Linked DNA regions of Homo sapiens: region 2 is linked to region 1. Evidence: fine-mapped expression QTL. A gene starts in region 1. The other region holds a variant in brackets. All regions are shown on one strand. Distances are from middle to middle.

Region 1 (16,239 bases):
GGATTAGGATAGGTGTCATTGTGGAGGCCAGGGGCCAATTGGGAAGTGTCTTCATAGGGTGTCACAATCTTGATGAAGACACTGGGGTCCAAGGATCTTGGTTTACCTGGCCCAAAGAAAAGGTTAAGGTTTTCAGGGTGAGGCTCCTGAAGAAACTTACAAGAGTCTGATACATAAACCAGATTAAGTCCTTAAGACTAAGCTGACCCCAGGGGACAGCTCTGTCACCTTAACAGATTTATCTGCACAGCTGAGCAGTACACTGCACCTCTGAGATCAGACTGGTCAGTCATAGCGTCTGCTCAGGCATGTGGAGTGGGAATGTGGAAAGGTGGAGTGCGATGGCATCAGCCCCCGGTGGCCTGGTGGATCTTTGTACTTCGTGTCTGCTTCCCTTGGGCAATTCTGATTCTCAATGGAGACAACATTGCATAGACTTCAGACCCCAAATGATCTTGGGCTTGAATCCTGGTTCTATCAGGACCAGGGACATCCTAGGCAAGTCGGCCTCTCTGAGACTTGGTTTCCCCATCTGTAAAATGGGAGTAATCAAACCTTTGATTTAAAAATTGGAGGCTTGGCCAGGCACGGTGGCTCATCCCAGCACTTTGGGAGGCCAAGGCGGGTGGATCACAAGGTCAGGAGTTCAAGACCAGCCTGGCCAACATGGTGAAACTCTGTCTCTACTAAAAATACAAAAATTAGCTAGGCATGGTGGCATGTGCCTGTGGTCCCTGCTACTTGGGAGGCTGAGGTGGGTGAATTGCTTGAGTCTAGGAGGTTGAGGCTGCAGTGAGCCGTGATCACACCACTGCGCTCCAGCCTGGGCAACAGAGTGAGACTGCCAAAAAAAAAAAAAGAAAGAAATAAAAGAAAGAAAGAAAGAATAGATTGGAGATTGGCTAGGTGTAGTGGCTCATAACTGCAATCTCAGTGCTTTGGGAGGCCAAGGCAAGAGGATCACCTGAGGCCAGGAGTTTGAGACCATTTTGAGACCGGCCTGGGCAACATAGTGAGATGCTATATTTATTTTAAAATAAAATAAATAAGTAGCCAGGCTTGGTGCCTCACATCTGTAATCCCAGCACTTTGGGAGGCCGAGGCGGGTGGATCACTTGAGGTCAGGAGTTCGAGACCAGCCTGACCAACATGGAGAAATCCCCTCTCTACTAAAAATACAAAATTAGCCGGGAGTGGTGGCACATGCCTGTAATCCCAGCTACTTGGGAGGCTGAGGCAGGAGAATCGCTTGAATCCGGGAGGTGGAGTTTGTAGTGAGCCGAGATTGTGCCATTGCACTCCAGCCTGGGCAACAAGAGCAAAACTCCATCTCAAATAAATAAATAAATAATAGAGATCATGTATATATTGACCAGGCATGGTGACTCATGCCTGTAATCCCAGCACTTTGGGAGGCCAAGGCGGGCAGATCACTTGAGGTCAGGAACTTGAGACCAGCCCGGCCAACATGATGAAACCTCGTCTCTACTAAAAATACAAAAATTAGCTGGGCATGGTGGTGCACGCCTGTAATCCCAGCTATTCAGGAGGTTGAGGAAGGTGAATTGCTTGAACCTGGGCAGCAAAGATTGCAGTGAGCTGAGATCGAGCCGCCACACTCCAGCCTGGGCAACAGAGCAAGATTCCATCTCAAAAAAAAAAAAAAAAAAAGAGAGATTATGTATATAGAGTGATCAGTTGACAGTCAGGTATATTAACAGGCAACTAATTAATGCCAGTTATTATTATTAGTATTATTATTGAGACAGTGTCTTGCTCTGTTGCCCAGGCTGGCGTGCAGTGGGTCAATCATAGCTCAAGCAATCCTCCCACCTAAGCCTCCTGTAGCTGGGACTATAGGCCCACACCACCACGCCCAGCTAAGAAGCTTTGGTTTTAAGATATGCTAACATGGTCAGTTTGATTACAGCCCAGTTCTTGCTTTCCTTTTCAGGCTCAGAAACAACTGATCTAATCTAGTCTTTGTTCTTTTCACCCTCCAAGTTCACCCAAGAGTAAGGGCTCTAGCAGCAAATCATCTGAAATTTAGAGAAGGAGAAAGGTGCCTGAGGCTAGAGGAAGCAGGGGGGCTTCCCAGGAGGTGAAATGCAGCTGGGCCTTGAAATAAAGGGAGGCTTTGATAGATGCCTGGCACAGGGACATAATCTGATAAATTGACAGGACTGTGACTCAGGAGAACTGGCTCTGATCTCAGTTCTATTATTTATTGGTGTTGTGAGCAGTTAAGTCACTTCCCCTCTTTGGGTTTACTAAGGTTCTCCTTCTGACATCCACAGATGGGTGGCTGAGGCCTGAGAGCCTCCTGAAGTCAGTGCAAAATGTGTCTGAGCATTTTTCTGGCAGAGTGTTCCCAGCTTTCATCAGATTCTCTAGGGGCTCTGACCTCACCAACTTGCAGACTGCTACAGTGACTCAGCAGCTCCCGGCCTGCCCCACTGCCCTGCTGCTGCTGACTCACCAGCTCATGCAAGGCCTTCTTGGCAGCTCCTGCTCTCCCCAAGAGAGCAGCTGATGGGGGCCGCCTGTCCAATAGGAATAACATCTGGGGACAGAGCTGTGGGGCCAGGCCGCATCCCATGCACTGATCGGCTCTCAGAATAGACTGACTGGGAATCTGATCACCCACAGCCCAGCGGGTGACAGGGCCTCAGGGTGCCGAATGGGACGTGTGTACAAGGAGCCCTGATGGAGCTGTGGGCCCGGCCAGCAATCTGGCTTCCCCGGAGTGGGGACATAACAACGAGCCTCTTGTGTGGCCTTTCCACTCAGCCTGCGTGCTTCATTTCTCTGTCTTCAGCCCTTGGTACAGTGCCTGGTATATACCAGGCACTCAATAAATGTATTGCTAAAAAAATAACAGGACAAAATAAGAAATGCTGTTGAGATGTGAACAGATCCCAGAGGGAGCAGTGAGGAGGAAGTGTCCACCAATTCCTAAAGCATAGCAAATAGCAAAGGTTTCCCTCTGGCAGTATCTGTTTTTTTTTTTTTTTTTTTTTTCTTTTTCTGATATAGAGTCTCACTCTGTCGCTCAGGCTGGAGTATAGTGGCATGATCTCAGCTCAACCTCCATACCACCTCCCCTCCCCGCCCCCACCAGGTTCAAGCGATTCTCCCGCCTCAGCCTTCTAAGCAGCTGGGATTACAGGCGCGTGACACCACGCCCAGCTAATTTTTTGTATTTTTAGTAGAGACGGGGTTTCACCATGTTGGCCAGGCTGGTCTTGAACTCCTGATCTCAAGTCATCCACCTGACTTGGCCTTCCAAAGCGCTGGGATTACAGGCATGATCCACCGTGCCTGGCCTTAAATGGATTTTGAAGGATGAATAAGAGTTTACCAGAGAAAGAGGCAGGGAATAGAATTCGAGGTAGGGGATGGGGGTATTTATAAGGCACATAAATGTGGAGCTGCATAGCTTATTTAGACAATCTTAGAGAATGTGGGCAGAGTAGGTGGAACCATGGGATGGAGGGCAAGGTCGGAAGTTTGAGAGAACAGAGATTGCAAAGCTGGGCTAGGACCAAGGCCTTGTGTTCCGTAAAGCAGGGGTGTCCATTCTGTGGCTTCCCTGAGCCATACTGGAAGAAGAAAAATTGTCTTGGGCAACATATAGAATACACTAACATTAATGATAACTGATGAGCTTAAAAAAAATCACACACAAAAAATCTCATAATGTTTTAAGAAAGTTTATAAATGTGTGTTGGGCTGCATTCAAAGCCGTCCTGGGCTGCATGTGACCTGCAGGCCGTGGGTTGGACAAGCTTGCTATAAAGAAATGGCGGCCTGGCGCAGTGGCTCACGCCTGTAATCCCAGCACTTTGAGGGGCTGAGGCAGGTGGATCACCTGAGGTCAGGAGTTCGAGACCAGCTTGACCAACATGGAGAAACACCCTCTCTACTAAAAATACAAAATTAGCTGGGTGTGGTGGTGCATGCCTGTAATCCCAGCTCCTCAGGAGGCTGAGGCAGGAGAATCGCTTGAACCTGGAAGGTGGAGGTTGCGGTGAGCCGAGATCGTGCCACTGCACTCCAACCTGGGCAACAAGAGCAAAACTCCATCTTAAAAAAAAAAAAAGCAAAAGAAATGGTCAGAGAAGTAGAAGGATGACTGAGAGCAAGCAGAGTATGGTGGTGGAATTCACTATATAGCTTCTTCTTTCAGGACCAAGCCACCCACTGTCTCTCCACCATGGGCTCGTCTGCTGAGGGCTCACAATTGTGCCATCTCCAGGAATTCCCCTCAGCCAACGGAGCCCCTCACCCAAGCTTACACTCCCTCCCCTGGGACATATTATCTTGGGCTTTAAAGGCCCACACCCCTTACCCCAGTTGACAGCCGTTCTGCAGCACCGTCCCTGCAGCGCGGTATGGGCTGAGGCCAATGTAACAACCTTGTCGCAGTTTGGTTTCCCCTATCTTGCTGCCCTCACGGCCTCACAGGTGTGATCCTGAGAACATACCCCAATAAACTCCTGCCTGCTCATCTCAGCCTTAGACTGTGGTTCCCAGGCAACCCCATCTGAGACAGACAGCAAATATGTTAACCCAAGAGCCAACTTTGAAAGCAGAGGAGTACCGAGTTGACAAGGCTTCAGGAGGCAAGGTCTATTGGTGATGTCTGCCATGAATGAGGAAGCAGGCAGTGGGGACGTGTGTGGTGCATATTCAGCATCCCTGTGGAGTGGCACCCTGTCACTGATGCCAAAGGCGGGGGCGGGAGAGGAGGACTTGTAGAAAGGAGAAGCAAACCAACAGTGCCAGAGGTGAAAGGGAACAGAAGGTGCTGGTGGACTTACCAAGAAGGAATTGACTGTCTACTTTCCAGAAGCCATTTGGGGGATCAGTGGGCTGGATTATAGTTGGGAGGGATAGTAGTAGTTATGGTGAGTGTATATGCCATACTGAGTATGGCACTGAAGGGAAGGTGAGAGAAAGCACAGTGGCTTATGTGAAAGTCAAGGTGAAGAAAGATTTCTTTTAGGATGGGAGAGCCTTGGGCATACTTATAGTCTGACAGGGAAAAGTCAGTGTACAGAGGGAGACAGAAGATATAAAAAAGGAAAGGGGCTGGGCACCATGGCTCAAACCTATAATCCCAGCACTTTGGGAGGCTGAGGCGGGCAGATCGCCTGAGATCAGGAGTTCGAGACAAGCCTGGCCAACATGGCAAAACCCCGTCTCTACTAAAAATACAAAAATTAGCCAGGTGTGGTAGTGTGTGCCTGTAATCCCAGCTACCTGGGAGATTGAGGTGGGACAATCGCTTGAACCCAGGAGACGGAGGTTGTAGTGAGCCAAGATCATACCACTTCACTCCAGCCTGGGTGACAGAGTGAGACTCCATCTCAAAAAAAAAAAAAAAAAAAGAAGGGGGCTGGACGCAATGGCTCACACCTGTAATCCCAGCACTGTGGGAGGCAGAGGCAGGTGGATCACTTAAGGTCAGGAGTTTGAGACCAGCCCGGTGAACATGGCGAAATCCTGCCTCTACTAAAAATACAAAAACTAGACAGGTGTGGTGGCACACGCCTGTAGCCCCAGCTACAAAGGAGGCTGAGGCAAGAGAATCATTTGAACCCAGGGGACGGAGGTTGCAATGAGCTGAGATCACACCGCTGCACTCCAGCCTGGGGGACAGAGCAAGGCTCCATCACAAAAAAAAAAAAAAAAAAAAAAAAAAAAAGAGAGAGAAAATAAAGAAAGAACAATTGACAAAGCAAAGTACCAGAGCGGTGATATTAAAAATATTCACCGATGATTCCTGGTGATATAGCAGTTAGGAAATAATTAATTCAACAAAGTGAAGGACGCAGGCATTAAACAACCAAAATAGACAGAATATCAGTCCTGTCCTAAAAGTCACAGGAGCTGATCAGCAAAAGCATAGTAGTGTTTAGTGGCTAAACTTGCAAAGGGGAGGAAAATACACAAAGCCTTGCAAAGAAGAGGAAGGACATCTTCTTAGAGAAAGGGAAGGAGTAAAACAGTAAATGGGTGTGAAATAAATTAAAAATTACATAGGGGCTTGAGCATTGTTAACAAGATTAGGAATGAAGCAGAAAACTGAAGATAACAAAAACTTAATAAAGATAGGAGTTTGTTTACATAAATAAAGCCCGCAAGGGACAGCCTAGAGCAGGTACAATCATCAGGGAGGCAGGCTCCTCTCTTGTTGCTTTGTCATCCTTAAAGAGGCTTCTACCTCATGGTCCAGGATGGATGCTTGAGCTCCTGCCATTATGTCTGCAATCCAGGCAGCGGGCCGAAGAAAGGAGATTGTAGCCAGGGCTGATATTTAGCTGATACATATCAGTAGAACTGTACCAGTAATTAAATTATAAAGAGCAGGGTTGGTGTAATCCAGCACTTTGGGAGGCCGAGGTGGGCAGATCACCTGAGGTCAGGAGTTCAACACCAGCCTGGCGAACATGGTGAAACACCATCTCTACTAAAAACACAAAAATTAGCCGGGCATAGTGGCGCAGGTCTGTAGTCCCAGCTACTCAGGAGGCTGAGGCAGGAGAATTGCTTGAACCCAGGAGGCAGAGGTTGCAGTGAGCCAAGATGGCACCACTGCACTCCAGTCTGAGCGACAGAGCAAGACTCCATCTCAAAATAAAAATAAATAAATAAATAAAAATAAAATAAAATAAAAATAAATAAATTATGAAGGACTTCGTACCAGTTGGTAACACCTGCTAGCCTCCTGCTGCCCACCCCCGCTGCCGGGTCATCCCCAGGAACCATCCACCCCTCCAAGACAGCAGCCTGGCTCAGTTGGGGCCTTCTAGGACATTCCCCCAGCACTATGGCCAGTGTCCTGGCAGTACTAGTTGTTAAATATTTGAATATTTGCACTGGATATATGCCTTCTTTTAAAAAGCAGTACCTAGAAGTCACAAATTGGGCACTTGTTTTTTTAAATCTCATTGGCCACAGTGAAGTCCCGTGGCTGCAAGGGAGGTTGGAATGTGTAGCTTTTATTTTAGGTGGCCATGTGCCCTGCTAGAAATAAGGGGTCTCATTAGTAACTATCAAATCAAGGAGAAGGGGGTGAATGATATTAGAGGGTGTAGCAGACTCTGCCACAGGGGAGGCTAAATAGGTGCTGAGAAGCACAGAGGGCTTGGTGAGCTTGGCTGCACTGTTGAGTGCTCCATCAGTCCAGGGGAGGTGGGGGTATAGGAGGAGAAGTCAGAGGTTGGGAATTGGTGGGTGATGGGAGAGGTGTCCCTGGGACAGCCTGAGCCTGCCTTGAGTGACACCTGAGGTCTCATTCCAGGCACAAGGACAAGTGCAGGCTAGAGGGTCTGAAGCCAGAGGTCTCGAGTAGGAAGATGCTGGAGGGAGAGAACCTGTCATTGTTTGAGACAGGGTGAGGGGTCAAGGGAGGCTTCCAGGGCATTAGGGGGCTCCAGGGTTGCTGTTTAGGGCACTGGAGTGGAGCCTTGGGGCCAAGCAGGTGGGCTGGGCCTCAATGGTAGATATGTCTTATCTCCTTGGCTGTCTTGGCCGGAACTTTCAGTTGTAGAAAAAGTAACAGATGGAGGCCATCTGGGGCCACAGGGAACATCATTATTATTATTTGAGATGGGGTCTTGCTCCGTTGCCCCGGCTGACAAGCAGAGGTGCACCACTGCAGCCTCAACCTCTTGGGCTCAAGCCGTCCTCCCGTCCCATAGCCTCTGGAGTAGCTGGGATCACAGACCTGTGTCGCCACACCTGGCTAATTTTTGCATTTTTTTGTAAAGACAGGGTTTCGTCATGTTGCCCAGGATAGTCTCCAACTCCTGGGCTCAAGTGATCCTCTCACCTTGGCCTCCCAAAGTGCTGGGATTACAGGCATGAGCCACCATGCCCGGCTGGAAAATTATTAAAAGGGTCTGACAGGTGGGGATTTCAAGAGATCTCAGACATGAAAATTGGGGCCTCATGCAGAACTGAGATCCAGAACTGGAAGGCCATTGAGAAACCTTAAGCGTGGCTCACATTTCTAAGGAAAAATATCTTTTCAGTTCCTTGAAGACTTGAGCTCCCAGAGGGTGGTAGTGGAAGGGATTTTCTTTTCTCTTTTAAAATTTCCTATATTAATTTTGTTTTTTAAAAATTGCAATGTGGACATTTCCATGAGTGAAATAATGCAAGATGAGTTAATCCAAAGTCAGAATTTCCCCCCTACTTCCAATTCTCTGTTCCCCTCCTGGCTGAAATCCTGCACTTGTGGGAGGGAGAGGGACAGGGTGGAGGGCCATGGCTGCCCGTGCATCCTCTCTTTGGGGTGCGGCAGGCTGCAGGATCTTTTTTTGTTTGTTTTTGGGGTTTTTTTTTTTTTTGAGAGAGTCTCGCTCTGTCATCCAGGCTACAGTGCAATGGTGCGATCTCAGCTCACTGCAACCTCTGCCTCCTGGGTTCAAGCGATTCTCATACCTTAGCCTCCCAGGTAGCTAGGATTACAGGCGCATGCCAATACACCCAGCTAATTTTTGTATTTTTAGTAGAGATGGGGTTTCACCATGTTGGCCAGGCTGGTCTCGATCTCCTGACCTCAAGTGGTCTGCCCGCCTCGACCTCCCAAATTGCTGGGATTACAGGTGTGAGCCACTGCGCCCGATGGGATCCAGGATCTAGAAGCTCTCCACCAGTTCTGCCATCCTCTCTGGGAAGTCAGCAGCAGGGCTTACTAGCAGATGGGGTTTGGCCTCTCACTCTGCCCATGTTTCTTGGGACCCACGTTCCTGGAAGACTTGCTGCAGCCTAGCCCTTGCTCCCTCCTCCTCCTGTTTCAAAGCTGCTTCAGTACCGTTGCTCTGTCCAGCCAGTTTCCACAGTCATCTCTTCATTGTTCAGCACTTGGGATCTTTCCAGCTTCCATGTTTCTAAAGGGCCCTTCTGTGAACACTTCGGACAAAATATTCCTTCACTTCTGGAGTATTTCCCTGAGGGTACATAGCTAGGAAAGGCATAAGAGAGCCAGAGGGTTTGAGGAGCTTCACAGCTCTTGTTGCCTACACGCAGATGGTTCAGAAGGTTTTTTTTTTTTTTTTTTAAGAGGATTTAAGCGTCTACTGACAAGGTAAAAAAATTAATAATAATCTACTTATTGCTTTTATATTCTTTGTTAAAATTCTGTCCTCATGGGGTTCAGGACGAGGCGGATGAAGCAGCATATTACTGTTGAGTTACAGGTGAGGAGATGAAAGGCAGCAAAAGTTTCTCTCAAAAACACTGACATATTCCTCTAGGTATGAAGGAGGAATATTTAAAAAAAAAAAAAAGGAGGGGTGTGGTGGCTCACACCTGTAATCCCAGCACTTTGGGAGGCCAAGGCAGGCAGATCACTTCAGGTCAGAGTTTGAGACCAGCCTGGTCAACATGGTGAAATCCTGTCTCTACCAAAAAATACAAGAAAACTAGCCAGGTGTGGTGGCGTGCACCTGTTATCCCAGCTACTCTGGAGGCTGAGGCAGGAGAATTGCTTGAACCTGGGAGGTAGAAGTGGCAGTGAGCTGAGATCGCACCATTGCACTCCAGCCTGGGTGATAGAGTGAGCCTCCATCTCCAAACAAAAAACAAAACAAAACAAAACAAAACAAAACAAAAAAAACAAGTCCTGGTTCAGGCTCTGTTGTTAACCAGCCCTGAGATGTCAGTAGCTCTATAAGATGAGAGGGGATGATCTGAGGTCTCTGAGCGTCCTTTTGGCTTGGGGTCCTGTAACCTCTGCATGGAGCACTGGGATGCTTTGCTCCTCCATCTGCAAGGAGCTGAAGGATGGGGGATTTGTCCTAGAGCCCCAGCTCCCTTGCTTTTTTTGTTTGTTTTTTTTTTGAGACGGAGTTTCGCTGTTGTTGCCCAGGCTGGAGTGCAGTGGCACGATCTCGGCTCACTGCAAGCTCCGCCTCCCGGGTTCACGCCATTCTCCTGCCTCAGCCTCCCGAGTAGCTGGGACTACAGGCGCCCGCCACATCGTGCGGCTAATTTTTTGTATTTTTAGTAGAGACGGGGTTTCACCCTGTTAGCCAGGATGGTCTCGATCTCCTGACCTCGTGATCTGCCTGCCTCGGCCTCCCAAAGTGCTGGGATTACAGGCGTGAGCCACCGCGCCCGGCTAGCTCCCTTGCTTTTAACCAGTTGTTGTGTGGTCTGCCCCACGCTTCTGCCTGGCCTTGGGAAGCCCAAAGGTGGAGCAGCCACGAAGTCTCCATCTGGCCACTGAGGCCGACCTGTGAGGCGTCCAGTTGAGACCACATCTTGTCCCAACTCACTCAGCTGCCTCACATGGCCCACTGTGGTGCATGGGGCACACTTCCCCATCTGGCTCCCCAGAGGAAGTCAGAGCTGTGGTGGGGGCTGGGGGCACTTAGGGAGATTGCAGGGGAGCAGAACTGAAGGTTCTGAGGCCTTAGTCCCTGGGGTTGTTCTCCAGAGCGGATTGCAGATTGGAGGAAGTTGGAGGAACTGTAGGTTTGCCCTTCCTGGGTCAGGAAACCTGGCTTCGGGCCAGGTTCTATCTCTACCTGTTGTGTGACCTTGGATAAACGTCTTGCCCTCTCCTAGGCTCAATGTCCCTACAGGTAAATGACCTCTAAGTGCCTGCCCTAAGGGGCTAAGATTCCCCTCCTTTCCCTGCCTTGCGGTTGGCAGGTTCTTATCCTTCTGGAGAGGGTCATCATCATTCTCTGTTCAGGTCCTGGCAGGGGCAGCCACAGGCAGAGGGTCTTTGGGTCTTAATTTCTGAAGGCTTCCATGTCACATAAAACGTTGATTACATAAATTTGTTATGCTTTTCTCTTAAGCTGTCTCGTTACAGGAGTGTTGGTTGTGACTCTTATGATCTCTTATGATGGGTGAGGAATGGTATTACATCTTTAACGGTACCACAATGTGAGGCTTAAAAGTTTTTTGTTTTTTTTTTTTTGGTGATGGGAATCTCTCTCGCTCTGTGGTCCAGGCTGCAGTGCAGTAGTGCGATCTTGACTCACGGCAACCTCCACCTCCCGGGTTTAAGCAATTTTCCTGCCTCTGCCTCCTGAAATAGCTGGAACCACAGGCGAGCGCCACCACGCCTGACTAATTTTTGTATTTTTAGTAGAGACAGGGTTTCACCATATTGGCCAGGCTGGTCTTGAACTCCTGACCTCATGATCCGCCCGCCTCGGCCTCCCAAAGTGTTAGGATTACAGGAGTGAGCCAGCATGCCCAGCCCAGACTTGCCTTTGACCAGGTGCCACCACCTGCCCCCACGTGCCCCTGGCCAGGACTGAGCCCTGTACCCTGTTACACGACTACTTATTCTATGTGAAACCCCAAGCTATTCTATGTGAAACCCGCTACTACAATGGGCTAATTTTTTTGTATTTTTTTTTTTGTAGAGATGGGGTTTCACCACGTTGCCCAGGCTAGTCTTGAACCCTCCGCCCGCCTCGGCCTCCCAAGTGTTGGGATTACAGGCGTCAGCCACCGCGGCCGGCCAACAATGTGGAGATTTAAAAGGTATTTTACATATATAATCTCTGACCTATTCAATTAGTAGGGCTTTTCTTTTATGACCTTTCCCTTCCCTTTCTCCAAGTTCTTCCTCACTCCTCCCCATAGCCCTTCCTTTCGCCCCTCCCATTGCCCCCTCCTATTGGCCTCCCCTTCGCGCAGGCGCCCTCAGAGGCGCTGAGTCAGGGCGCTGTTGAGCTCGGGCAGGCCCGGATGGGGCGGGGTTAGCGCCTGCGCTCTGGACGGCTTTGGGGCAGGGCAGATTTATATCTGCGGGGGATCAGCTGACGCTCCGCATTGCAGACTGCGGAGTCAGACGGCGCTATGTACGCCCTCTTCCTCCTGGCCAGCCTCCTGGGCGCGGGTAAGCCCTGGGACCCTCATCCTGGGGAGGAGGTGCCTCGCAGCGTCCATCTGCCCCAGAATGGGCTGTGCCGGGCCTGGCCCCTCTGCTCCCCCTGCCCTAGTTGGCAAGGGGGCGCGCGCACTGCGCAGGCGCGTTCGCTGGCTTTCTCTGGCTTTCTCTGGGCGGCTGGGGGCTGCGGGGGGCGGGCTGCGAAAATGCCCCCGGGAGGACGGCCCAGGCCCTGGGCAGCATCTCCTTCGGGGCTCGAGTGGGTTCCTGCGCGGCTGGGGCCCCGAGGCCTTCCCTCAGGCTGCGCTTCCCACTGTGGGGGTGGGTGAGTCTTGTAGGGTGACCCCTTGGGCAGCTGTGTTGTGCCTGTGCTGGGCGCACGTGATCGAGGTGGGCTGGAGCCCCGTCCCGCAGGACACTTTGGCCGTTGGCTTCAGTTGCCTGTTTGTAAGGGTAGCGAAGCTGCAGGAAGCACATGTGTATCATCTATATTGACGTTTGCATATGTATTTACTCTGGATTCTAGGTGTTGACAAAACGAGTCAAACTCTGTAAAAATATTTTGAGATTTATTCTGAGGCAAATATGAGTGACCATGGCCCGTGACACAGCCCTCAGGAGGTCCTGAGAACATGTGCCTAAGGTGGTTGGGATACAGCTGGGTTTTACATATTTTCGGGAGGCACGAGACATCAATCAAATACATTTAAGAAATACGTTGGTTTGGTTCAGAAGGGCGAAACAACTCAAAGCGGCGGGGGGCTTCCAGGCCATAGGTAAATTTAAACATTTTCTAGTTGATAATTGGTTGAGTTTATCTGAAAACCTAGAATCAATAGAAAGAAAGTATTCAAGTTAAGATAAAGGATTGTGGAGACCAAGTTTTATTGTGCAGAGGAAGCTCTCAGGTAGCCGACTAAGAGAGCGAGCACGTTGTAAAATATTTCTATGGAAATGAAAGGGTGACTGGCTCTTAGTTGATTATCTCCTGGATCTGGAGAGGAAGGAAGGAAAACATAGGGGAAAGGGGATTCTCTATAGAATGTGGATTTTTCCCACAAGAGACTTTGCAGGGCAATTTCAAGGTATGGCAAGGAAATATATTTTGGGGTTAGATATTTTGATTTTTTTTTCCTTGTCTTATAAAATGTTATGCCAGAGTCAGATTGGAAAGTAAGTCACGATATATGGGGTCAAATAAAACCCATCTGATGAGAGTTTATGGTTTGTAGGGTATGATTCCTACACCCCTTAGATAGGAATTTGGGCAAGCTAAAAAAAATCGGAGCTTAATTCTCATAGGTATTGAAGGCGATATAGGGTTTTCTGGTCCAGTTATTTTGCCATGGGGTCCTCATTTCACTTGCTTTGAAATGTCTTGCATCTGGGTGCGGTGGCTTATGCCTGTAATCCCAGCACATTGGGACACCGAGGTGGGAGGATCGCTTGAGCCTAGGAGTTGGAGACCAGCCTGGGCAACATAGCAAGACCCCACCTGTGAAAAAAAGAAAAAGAGAAAAGAAAGTCTTGCACGCTATTGGCCGTTTTTTTTTTGTTTGTTTGTTTTGTTTGTTTGTTTGTTTTTTGAGACGGAGTTTCGCTGTTGTTGCCCAGGCCGGAGTGGTGCAATGGCGTAGTCTCGGCTAACTGCAACCTCCGCCTTCCGGGTTCAAGCCATTCTCCCGCCTCAGCCTCCCAAAGTTCTGGGATTACAGGCGTGAGACACCGCACCCAGCCCCCACCACAATGTCTGTTTTTTAGTAACTATATGTAGTTTAAGGGCTGGCTGCCATTTTTAACCTAGCTACCCAAATTTTAATAAAAAGTAACAAAGTGGATGACAGGGTTGATGCAAAACCGAAGAAATGAGTTAGCTTTCAGCAGCTCTCAAGAATGTATCTTGACCCTATACGAAGCTCTTAAATTTGTTTTACTTGTACACAATGAAAGATGATCTGCTTATAAAAAAATCATTTTGATTTTATACTCAAGCTTATACTGCAGTTATTCCATGGTCTGTATAATAAACTAATGCTGGTCTCTAAATTTTTTATACTGATTCAGGGCAATTTTTTTTCTTTCTTTTTACATTATCCATTGTTCTTGTTGACGTTGAGTCACTCCTCACAAGACCCTTAAGAGTTCTGATTCATTCACATCACCCAAAAGGGACTCAATCGTGTCTCGGGAAATATAAAATCCACCTCTGGTATATATGGGCTTATGGTTAACCACAATATTTAGTTAACCAAGGGACCCTCTTCCGTGAACACTCGGGTAAATGGGAGGTATTGTAATGGCCTTGGTTTAACTTTGCTGTCCTACCTTTAGGATTAGGCCAAAGTCAGTGCTGATAACAGTGTTTGAATGCTCCCTGGCCTTCACAGCTCTGGCCCCTTTGTGATATTGTGAAAATGTTACTCCTAAAATTTCTAGACATGATAATGAGTTTTGTTAGTGAAAGTGCCTGGTGACTGCAGCCATTGTCTGCTGCCCGAGAGGCACTTAGAACTTTCTTCGTGACACTGTCGTAGTACAGAATGCCACCCTGAATCGGGATGGGCTTTGTATTTTGTGTTTCAGTGATGTCCTGGTGGTAGAGACACTTGCTTTTGAGTTACTTTTCTGCCCATCCAGCTGCCCCTCCTTTTTCCCCACCTAAAAGCGAAAGCAAAGCCATGGCACCATGAGAGAATTGGAGAGCATGTAATCTGACCCCTTTGTAAGGAATGAAGACCTGGAGGTGCCCAGAGGTGACTCTCCCAAATCATAGACCATTTACTGGGGATGCCAGGACCAGAACCCAAGACTCCACAGTGCTCGCTTTTTCCATATCCCTCTGTCCACATGGACCTCTTAACTTTTAAAAACTTAGTGTAAGTTACATACGTGGACGATTAAGTAGACAACTTGATGAATTACCACAAAGTGAGCAGCCCCCGAGGTTGGGGAGCAGTGCAGTAGCATCCAGAGGCCCCTGTTCACCCATTCACTGCCCTGTCCCACTTGCCCCGAAGGAAACATTGTTAACCTTTGAACACCATAGATGTGAAGGCTGCAGTTTCGATCTTTTACAAATGGGATCATGGAGGGTATTGCTGTTAGGTGAGTCCTCTGGTGGAAAAAGGAGCGTGTTCATCAGCTAGGTGTAAGGCATGAGGGATGGTGCCTGGGATGTGGCAGGTGCTCCCTGAAGCTTAGATGCCCTGATAGCTGTCAGCTGTGTGGTGGCTAGCCTGCTGAATGTTGTCTACACCACGCTAAGACAGTTATGTTTTCTGGGGATGCTAGAAGGTGTTATATATATTCTTTCAATAACATGTGAATTTATAGCCTGGCCTGCTGAATATCAGTAGGAACTTCAGGTCTTGGCCTGTCAGGGATTTTGGATAAATCTCCTGTTTATTAATAGTAAATCAGTTTTATTCTGTGAAAATAAGAGTATAATTCCTGAAGAAAGAAGGGTTTGTTTTAACAAATCAGTGATTTGTCAAGTCCTTGAAGTACATTTGACAGGTTGTTTTGTTTCTTTTTTTTTTTTTTGGAGCAGAAAGTTTAATAGGCAGAAGAAAGGAGAAAGGAGAGCAGCTCTCTCTTGTGAGAGAGAGGCATCCGAAAGGGAGAAGCCTGACAGGTTGTTATTGAGATGGGAGTCTTGCTCTGTCCCCAGGCTGGTGTGCAGTGGCGCGATCTCGGCTCACTGCCACTTCCGCCTTCCGGGTTCAAGCGATTTTCCCACCTCTGCCTCCCGAGTAGCTAGGATTATAGGTGCCCACCACCATGCCTATAAAATCCACCTCTGGTATATATGGGCTTATGGTTAACCACAATATTTAGTTGACCAAAGGACCCTCTTCCCTGAACACTCGGGTAAATGGGAGGTAATTTTTTGTATTTTAGTAGAGATGGGGTTTCACCATGTTGGCCAGGCTGGTCTTGAACTCCTGACCTCAAGTAATCCGCCTGCCTCGGCCTCCCAAAGTGCTGGGATTACAGGTGTGAGCCACCGCACCCGGCCCTGACAGGTTGTTTTGAGAACAAACTATGAGAGTTGAAGTGTGTTGGATTGATTGGTGTGGCATTTTGTAGATGAGGGAAAGGAGAACTTGGTCTTCCATTTTCTTGGTGAGTGAGACCATGGGATGTCCAGGCAGCTGTGGGGAAGTGGAAGGGTAGGGCGGGGTGTTGCTGGCTGGGAACAGCACCTAATGAGGCATGCTTAGGAAGTTCTCAAGGCCAAGACCAAAGCCACTTAGACAGGTGTGCATGGCAGCTTTGGAGGCAGCTTCTAGCAGAGATTCTAGGTTACTGGCTACCAGGCTGTAAGCCTTGCTTTCTGGCTCCTTTTTGGTTCTGCCACCAGGAAGGAG
Region 2 (8,000 bases), 59 kb after region 1:
GCTTCCCCTGCTTCTTTTCTGACTGTCTCAAAAAGAAGCCCCATGGACTTCAATCATGCTTTTTTAGTGTGGAGAGGACACATCTCAGATGTTGTCCCACAAAGGGCTCATTCCAAAAGACTTGGCCACTTCCTTAAACATCTGTTGAGACAGAAAGGCCACAGTCTACCAAATGTCTGGGACTCTGAGAACAGGGTTTGCTGACTTGGCTAAAGAACCTCTGGGGATGCAGATGTCCAGGCGACAAGACCCAGAGGGATTACTACAATACTTTTGGTGGCTGCTCAGTCTCTGACCCTGGGTCCTTCCCACTTCCAAATTCCAGGCCCTCCATCACTGCTCACCGTGGTGGGGTTGATGGCAAACTTGCTCTCTCCATCTCCAAGGCTGTACTCAATGAGTGCAAAGTTGCCTGAGTCAGCATCAGTGGCAGTGACTGTCAGGATGATTGTGCCCACAGGCACATCCTCAAAGACAGCCTCCTGGAGCCCAGGGGGCAGGGAGAGAGAGTAGGCCAAGGTCAGTCCCAGAGCCCGAGCACAGCCCTAGAACTCACTGATGCAGGCATCAAGCTGCTCGTGGGCTGGGCACTCCCAGGGGGCTTAGAGGCTGGCAGGGTGGGAGAGGAAGATGCCCAAAGACCCCAAGGAATGGGCGCAGGTCCTGGACCCAGCCTGTGGCCTGGCCACCCACCTGGTAGGAGGGCTGGTCAAAGATGGGGTTGTTGTCATTGATGTCCACGATTTCCAGGTAGACAGGGATCTCAGCTGCCCGGGGCGGGGACCCGTTGTCTGAGGCCCTCACGGTAAAGTTGAGCCAGTGCACCTCCTCGTAGTCCACTGTCCGGTTGGCAATGACCTTCCCTAAGACACAGAGGCTCCCACTGCCATTTTGGCCACTCCTCATTCATGGCAGCTCTCCAAAGTATGAGGAGAAAGACCTGGACTCCGAGGGGCAGCTGTGGTCACTTGAAGGAGGGTGGTCAGGCAGCACCACCCAGTTGCAGGGCACACGGCAGGGAGGGACTGGTGTCCAGTTTTTCTTATGGAGGGTGAAAAAGCTTCTCCCAGTCACAGGAATGAGCATCAACTAGCCCAGGACCTGAGACACCTCCTTCTTGGCCTTCCTGCTCCCTCGGTGGTACTAATAGTAGGAGCTTGGGTGGTGGGGTATCCCAGGTTTCCGGCAGACATCAAGAGGCTTCCATCCCAACCCAGGAGTAAGCACTCTGTCCCTTCCCCTGGTTTGGGCATCTGGAATCTGGCATGGAATGCTGGCCATCTTGGATCTGGCCCAGTCCACTGAGGAGCCACAGAGGGGCTGTGGTCTCTCTTGGGGACTAAGCAAGCAGAGATATATGTCCCCCAGCCCTCCTCTGACAGATTTCTAACCTACCTGCCGAGGAGTCCTCCAGCTGGACATACCCTGGGGGCACCAGGTCCAGCAGGGTGTAGGTGACCAGCCCATTAAGGCCCTTGTCAGGGTCCACGGCTGCCACAGCAATGAGTGTGGTCCCAGGGGTGGCCCCCTCCAGGATCCGCTCCATGTAGTAGGTGATCCCAAAGGGCTTGAACTGGGGCGTATTGTCATTGACGTCCAGGACGTTGACAGTCAGCTTGGCTGTGGTGGAGGCAGGGAGTGAGGGAGAGGGGAAGGACACTAGTGTGGCTGGGCCAGGCCTTCCTTAGCCTCAGCCAAGCCGGGTGAGCATGGCAGCATCCCACAGCCCCCCAGAGGCTGCCTGAGGATTGACCTGACCCTCAGGCTGCAGCACAGGAGGCTTTCCAGTGGTGTGCTCACTTGCTGTTCCATAAGAGGAAGGGCTAGGTGACCCTGGTGGAGCCCTCGGCCCTTCCTGTGCCCCGGTTTCCTAAACTGCTCAATGAGAAAGGGCAAGATAATCTTTAAGACCCTAGATCCTGTCTGAGCTGTATGTATCCCCTCTATGTAACCGGCCTGGGCCCTTAACCATCTGAGCCTCTGACATGGAAGAGATGACCAAGTCTGCCCTTCCTTCCGGAAAATGTGGGCTTCTGGGCTGTGAAGATAAGCAGTCATCATCTGCCAGGCCTGGCTTCCCCTATAGCAGCTGTCTGTACCTCATGGCTGAGGCAACTTGAGGCCACCCCATCCCCACTTCCCCCACTCAACTCTCGCTCTGCCCACACAAAATCCACCCCTCTGGCAGCCCCCTCCCAGCCCACGCCTCAGGCTGCAGGCAGGATGGCCTGGGCCCGATTGGCAGAAGGTAACACTGGGCCCCTCCGTTCTCCACCGTAAGTGCCTGCACCCCCAAAGCAGTGTCTGTGGCCTCAGGTTACCTCCCCTCATTCTTTGCTTCCTTTGTGCTAACCCTGTGGCTTCCTATAAGATCATAGGGTTCCCATCTCACATCCTACCCACACCCTGGTTACCAGTTCTGCTGGCTGAACCTAAGCCTCTGTCTAACCATTTTTTCTCAATCTGTTCCAGGCTCTACCAAGCCTCCTTCCTACTCTCAGCCTGGGGGTTCAGATCACACACAATTCTGAGCTTCTGGATCCTCCACTGCTGAGCTCTATGTAGCCATCACCACCCTGGGCCTCACGGTGGCTGCCACCTTTCATGCCTCTTGTGTTGCCTGACTCCTGGCCCCCAGAGCAACTGGGTCTTGTTGCTCCCTCCCTGGGGACAGACCAGTGCCTGTTCCCCACCTGCCCCCTGCCCTGATTGGCTCTGAGTGACCAATGAGAGATGTCTGCAGGGAACCTTACCATTTGGCACACTGACAGAGCGCTCTGGTAGGTCGCTGGCATTGTCAATCACTGAGAGAGTGACCTCATAGGTGGCAACCAGCTCCCGATTCATGGGGGACTTCACCATTACAGATCCTGTGGACCAGACCAGGCCAGGTTCAGCCTGAGAAGAACCCCCTAAAATCTGCCCTTCCCAGGGGTGCTCCTGGCCAAACCCTCCCAATCCCCACAAAGGATGACGGTCCCCAGTAGAATCTGGGACTTGTGGCTGGGGTGGGCCCACAGCCTCCTCATAAGCTTGGGTCACGTGGCTCTGCCCCTCCCATGATGCTTACTAAGCAGGTGATGTTGGGGAAGTTATGTCACCTCTCTGCACCTCTGTGTCCACATTTGTAAAACTAGATAATTACACTACCGACTGTCAACCCATCCTTTTCTCAATACCCTACTATTTTGAGGATTAGAAAAACAAAATGAGTTTCCATTTGTAAAGTACTTAGAACAGTGCGTGGCACACAGAAGCTATGTAACTGCTTGTTTAAAAACTGCTGTATTCCTTAACAATGCAAATGTACTTAACACTACTGGACTCTACAATTAAAAAGTGGCTAAAATGGTAAATTTCGTTATGTGTATTTTATCACCATTTAAAAAATGCTTAGATTCTAGGGAGATCAAGTTTAAAGGAAAGTCATGGTAGCTGAAAAGCCCTGAGGGGTTCCCTGGAGGGGACAGTGGTGGGACCGTCTGGATACTTCAGGCCCATCCCTTTGTCTTGATTAAATAGGGAGTGACATGGGCTGATTGTGGGACAGGAGCATTGGTTCCATGGCAGTCCTAGCAAGGGGTTTCCTTCTGTTCTACCCACTGCCTCCCAGAGTCCCTGCCTGCTCCCCAAATCAGAGAGGAACCCCCCAGAAGCATGGGCGGGGACTGGACAGACCTAGTTTGGCTGACCTCAGTGCTGCGTTTCTTGGGACCTTTCTTGTTCCTGCCTGTTAGAGGGCCTGGTGGCTTCTCCTCCCATTGGCTTCATCCCAGAGTGAGACCTCCTCTCCCTCTCAGGTAC[A/G]GGGGTATCTGAGATTCCCTTCCCCCTTGGCAGATCCCCCTGCTGGGCTTCTGTCTTCCGTGGGTCCCCAGCCATGGGGTAGTCACTTACCCTGGGCCGCCTCCTCCTCCTCCTCCTCCTCCTCTTCCTACTCTCGCTCCCTGTCCCCCAGGCTGGGGAGCGAGGATGGGGAGAGGGCGGCTGCATTCAGTCTGCAAAGGCTGGGCCACGGCCTTGGCCCAGGCCCCACAGGACAGGAAGGGTGGTGGGGGTGTGGTGGGCATGGAGGAAGGCAATGGGGTGAGGCAGAGAAGAGATGAGGTGGGAAGTGACAGAGAAACAGAGCTCAAACCTGTGGGCCTGCCAGCCATGAGGAAGAGAGAAGAGGGTTAACATCAGTTAGTTCAGGGTGCAGCAGGGATGGAGCAGAGCAGGGCAGGGAGGATGGTGGGGACTCAGAGCTGACGGGGTGGGAGGAGGGAGGGAGGGGTGGAAACAGGGAGTGGGGAGGGGAAGAGGCACTGGGAAGGAAACCAGGGGAGCAAGTGGAAGCCCATTTGGAGTGGAGAGCTCAGGGGCTGAGGCTCTGGCAAGAAGAAAAGGTAGCAAAGTGGGCAAGGGAGGAGTGGAGGGCTGAGGAGGAGGGGGCAGAGAAGACACTGGAAAGAAAAATAGAGAAGAGAGTCAGCTGGAGGAAGGGGGAACAGGAAAGAGAAAAGCAGTAGGGGATTGAGCAGAGCCTCAAGTTGAGTAGGGACGTGGAGCAGCTCTCCATGGTCCTGACCAACCCATGCAGCCAGGAATTTTGCTAACCTGGGATGTAGCTGGTTCTATCTAACTTCTCCTAGTGCTCATGGTTTTTCCTTCTTCTGTTTCCCTTTGGGCCTCAAATGCAGATTGAGTTTATCATGTTCTTTGGCTCGCTGCACACTATGACCACTGGCACTTCTCTTGTTTTATGTGTGCGTCTACTCCCTTTCATTCCCATACTCATCTCTCCTTCCCTTCTCCCCTCAGGCAGTCATTGTAATGTATTGAAGTATATTTTTTGTTAATAAAAGTATTTCTGAAAATCATGTATTATTTTGTATGTATTTTACATTTATGGAAATGGTGCTGTGGCATATATCTCATCCCATTTATTATCCTTTTCAGTAAATACTTATTATTAGGATCCATCTACATTGCTCTGTGTGTGTCTAATTTATTGCTTCTCACCGCTGGCACTGCTGGCTGGTACCCCCATGATGCACACCCATGATATTTTACTCTTCAGTCTCCCAGAAATGGATACCTGCATGGCCCCAACTCCACCATCACCAATAACACTGCAGTGAGCATCCTCAGACAGTTTCATTAATGCCCTGAGACTTTCTCTGGAACATATACTGGGTAATGGTGGTACAAGTGTCCCTTATGCTGGATTGCTATCCAGACAGTGGAATCAGTCACAACTCCTACAGCAGTGCATGAGGGTTTCCATGTCCCCACACGGTCACCAATATCAACATTGTCCAGCATCCTAATGTCCACTAATCACGTGTGAAAAACTGATATCTTACTGCTGTTTTAGTGCTTTGTCACAGCCATGTTGATTCTTCTATCATTCCTCTGGGCCTTCCAAGAAGTACACGTATCAGCTCCATGTCCCTTTCCTAACTCCTCAAAGGAGAAAAACACTGAACTTTTGGGAAAATGATAAAACCATCAGCATTACAATAAACTACATACATTGTGAAAGATAAGCCATGGTTCTCTTGGTTTCGTGATAGTGTAAGAAAATCATTGATCGCATGCAACTTGCAGAGGATTTAAATGGCCAGCATACATATGAAGAAAGTGTTCAGCCACCTAGTTAGTAAAGAAATGCATATTAAACAAGGTATCACGGCTGGGTGCAGTGACTCACGCCTGTAATCCCAGCACTTGGGAGGCCGAGGCAGGTGGATCACCTGAGGTCAGGATGATCAAGACCAGCCTGGCCAACATGGTGAAACCATGTCTCTACTAAAAATACAAAAATTAGCTGGGTGTGGTGGCACATGTCTGTAATCTCAGCTACTCGGGAGGCTGAGGCAGGAGAATCACTTGAACCCAGGAGGCAGGGGTTGCAGTGAGCCGAGATTGCACCATTGCACTCCAGCCTAGGTGACAAGAGTGAAATTCCATCTCAAAAAAAAAGCCAAAACAAAAACAAAAAACAAAAGAACAAACAAGGTATTACTTTCCTCTAAAATTGCCAACATGAAAATGTTATCATATTTAATACTGGCATGATGTGGTGAGATAGGTGCTCTCATACACTGGTAGGGCGAGGGAATCAGGAAGGCCAGAGGAGCTGCTCAAGGGAGGATGAGGAAGCAGAGAAAGAAAGCAAGGGGAGAGATGGAAAAGAGAAGGACGGTTCTGGTTTCCCTCCAGAGGAGGGGGAGAGAAGAGAGTAGCAAGGGAACAGCAAAGAAAGAGAAAGGAGAAAGAAGGGGGAAGCAGGGAGCGAGGAGACAGGACTGGGAGCTGGGAGGGAGGTGGGAGGGGTGCAGGCCCTTGTACCTGTGTTGATATTCACAGCAAAGGCGTCCTCCTGGTTGGGCACCAGGCGATCAGTGTCGTCCTTGGCCACAATGCCGACAATGTGGTACTCTAGCTTTGGGTTGAGGTCGTGGTCAATGGCCGTGATATTGGCAATGACAGTGCCTGGCTCAGCCGACTCCAGCACGCTCACTGTCTGGATGGGGTTGAGGAACTCGGGGCGGGAGTCATTGATGTCATCGATCAGAATGGTGACAATGGCTGTGCCCGAGAGAGGAACGGTGCCCCGGTCGGTGGCCACCACCGTTAGCCTGTAGGACTCCTGCTCCTCTCTGTCGATGGTGGCATTACCAACACGGATGACCCCGGTGACCAGATGAATGAGGAAGCGGTCCTGAGCCCCAGCTTCTATTCGGTAGACCAGCTCCCCATTGAGGCCACTGTCCTCATCTGTGGCTGTGACTTGAAGGACTGAGAATCCTGTTGGAGAGGGAAAAGGGAGTAGCTGCGCACAGTGGCCTCTTCCAGAAAGATCTACCAAGACACATTTGTTGGTGATCTTCTCAAGTCCCCTTCTCATGACAGCCTTGACAGCATTTTCTTTTATACCTTTTTCATACTTGCAATTTTATAGGAAAATGGCATGTTATTTTATTTTATATTCTTTGATTAAACAATATTTTATAATGTAATAATTAGTTGTATCTTCTGCAAATGGTCTGCTTTTGTCTTTTGTCCATTTTTCTGTCAATTATACAAGTCACATAATTATGACAACTTGAGACATATATATATATATATATATATATTTTTTTTTTTTTTTTTTTTTTTTTTTTTTTTTAGATGGAGTCTTACACTGTCACCTAGGCTGGAGTGCAGTGGTGTGATCTCGGCTTACTGCAACCTCTGCTTCCCAGGTTCAAGTGATTCTTATGCAGCAGACTCCTGAGTAGCTGGGATTACAGGCACCCACTACCATGCCTGGCTAATTTTTTGTATTTTTAGTAGAGAAAGGGTTTCTCCATGTCAGGCTGGTCTGGAACTCCAGACCTCAAGTGATCCACCTGCCTCAGCCTCCCAAATTGCTGGGATTACAGGCGTGAGCCACCTCGCCTGGACCAAGACAAATATACTTTTTGGTTTGTTGTTTGCCTTTCAATATTGGCTATAATTATTTGATGTAACAAGGTTTAAATTAGCATGCATAGAAATTTAATATTTTTCCTCTTAAGTTCTTTTCTTTTATGCTTAGAACCTTCTTACCCAGAAATGAGTTATTCACCTAAGTTTTCTTCATTTATTGTTTAGTGTTTTCTACTTTTTAATATTTTCTTTTGGTTTTTATTTTGGTGTCTGACATGGGGGAGAATCTACACTAAATATTACATTATTATTATATTAGATTACATACAGATTATAATAATTGGATGTAATTGATTAGATTAAATAGGTTTTTGCACACTGAATAAGTAGCTTCCCCATTGGCCTCATTGCTTCCTTTATCACATCATATTTTATTCTTTAATTTACCAGTATCTGTTTCTGGGCTACTTTGTCCTGGAGTCTTGTGCCCATATTGCATGGCCTTAAATACTGTAGCTTTATAATATGTTATAAAATCTGGTAAGCCAAATCTGGCTTATTATACTTATGTTTTTCAAAATTTTCTTATTCTTCCAGAAGTTATA

Direction of the effects. Positions count from the first base shown, and alleles are read on the strand shown. Sizes are in standard deviations (SD) of each study's normalised expression.
For the expression in esophagus mucosa of the gene that starts at base 11,809 in region 1, A is the low allele of the variant in region 2 and G is the other (small effect, 0.16 SD a copy in GTEx).

The links. PIP is the estimated chance that this variant, and not a neighbour inherited with it, causes the effect.
Region 2: its variant is fine-mapped to the expression of PSAP in esophagus mucosa (GTEx, PIP 0.91).

Annotation. Positions count from the first base shown.
Region 1 is chr10:71,846,821-71,863,059 of GRCh38, reverse strand. PSAP (prosaposin) reads left to right here and starts at 11,809. Exons shown (of 14, transcript NM_002778.4): 1 at 11,809-11,878. The coding sequence starts at 11,839. RefSeq lists enhancers at 2,260-2,359, 2,362-2,506, 11,598-12,128, 12,129-12,659, 13,051-13,550 and 1 more, cis regulatory regions at 2,429-2,439, 2,469-2,479, 1,803-2,822 and a silencer at 2,971-3,205.
Region 2 is chr10:71,791,974-71,799,973 of GRCh38, reverse strand. CDH23 (cadherin related 23) reads right to left here. Exons shown (of 70, transcript NM_022124.6): 48 at 6,334-6,792; 49 at 2,754-2,870; 50 at 1,396-1,620; 51 at 694-863; 52 at 345-482. Among named protein-coding and RNA genes, the nearest start is that of MIR7152, 5.2 kb to the right of the region's middle. The variant A/G (reference allele first, on the strand shown) is at 3,805.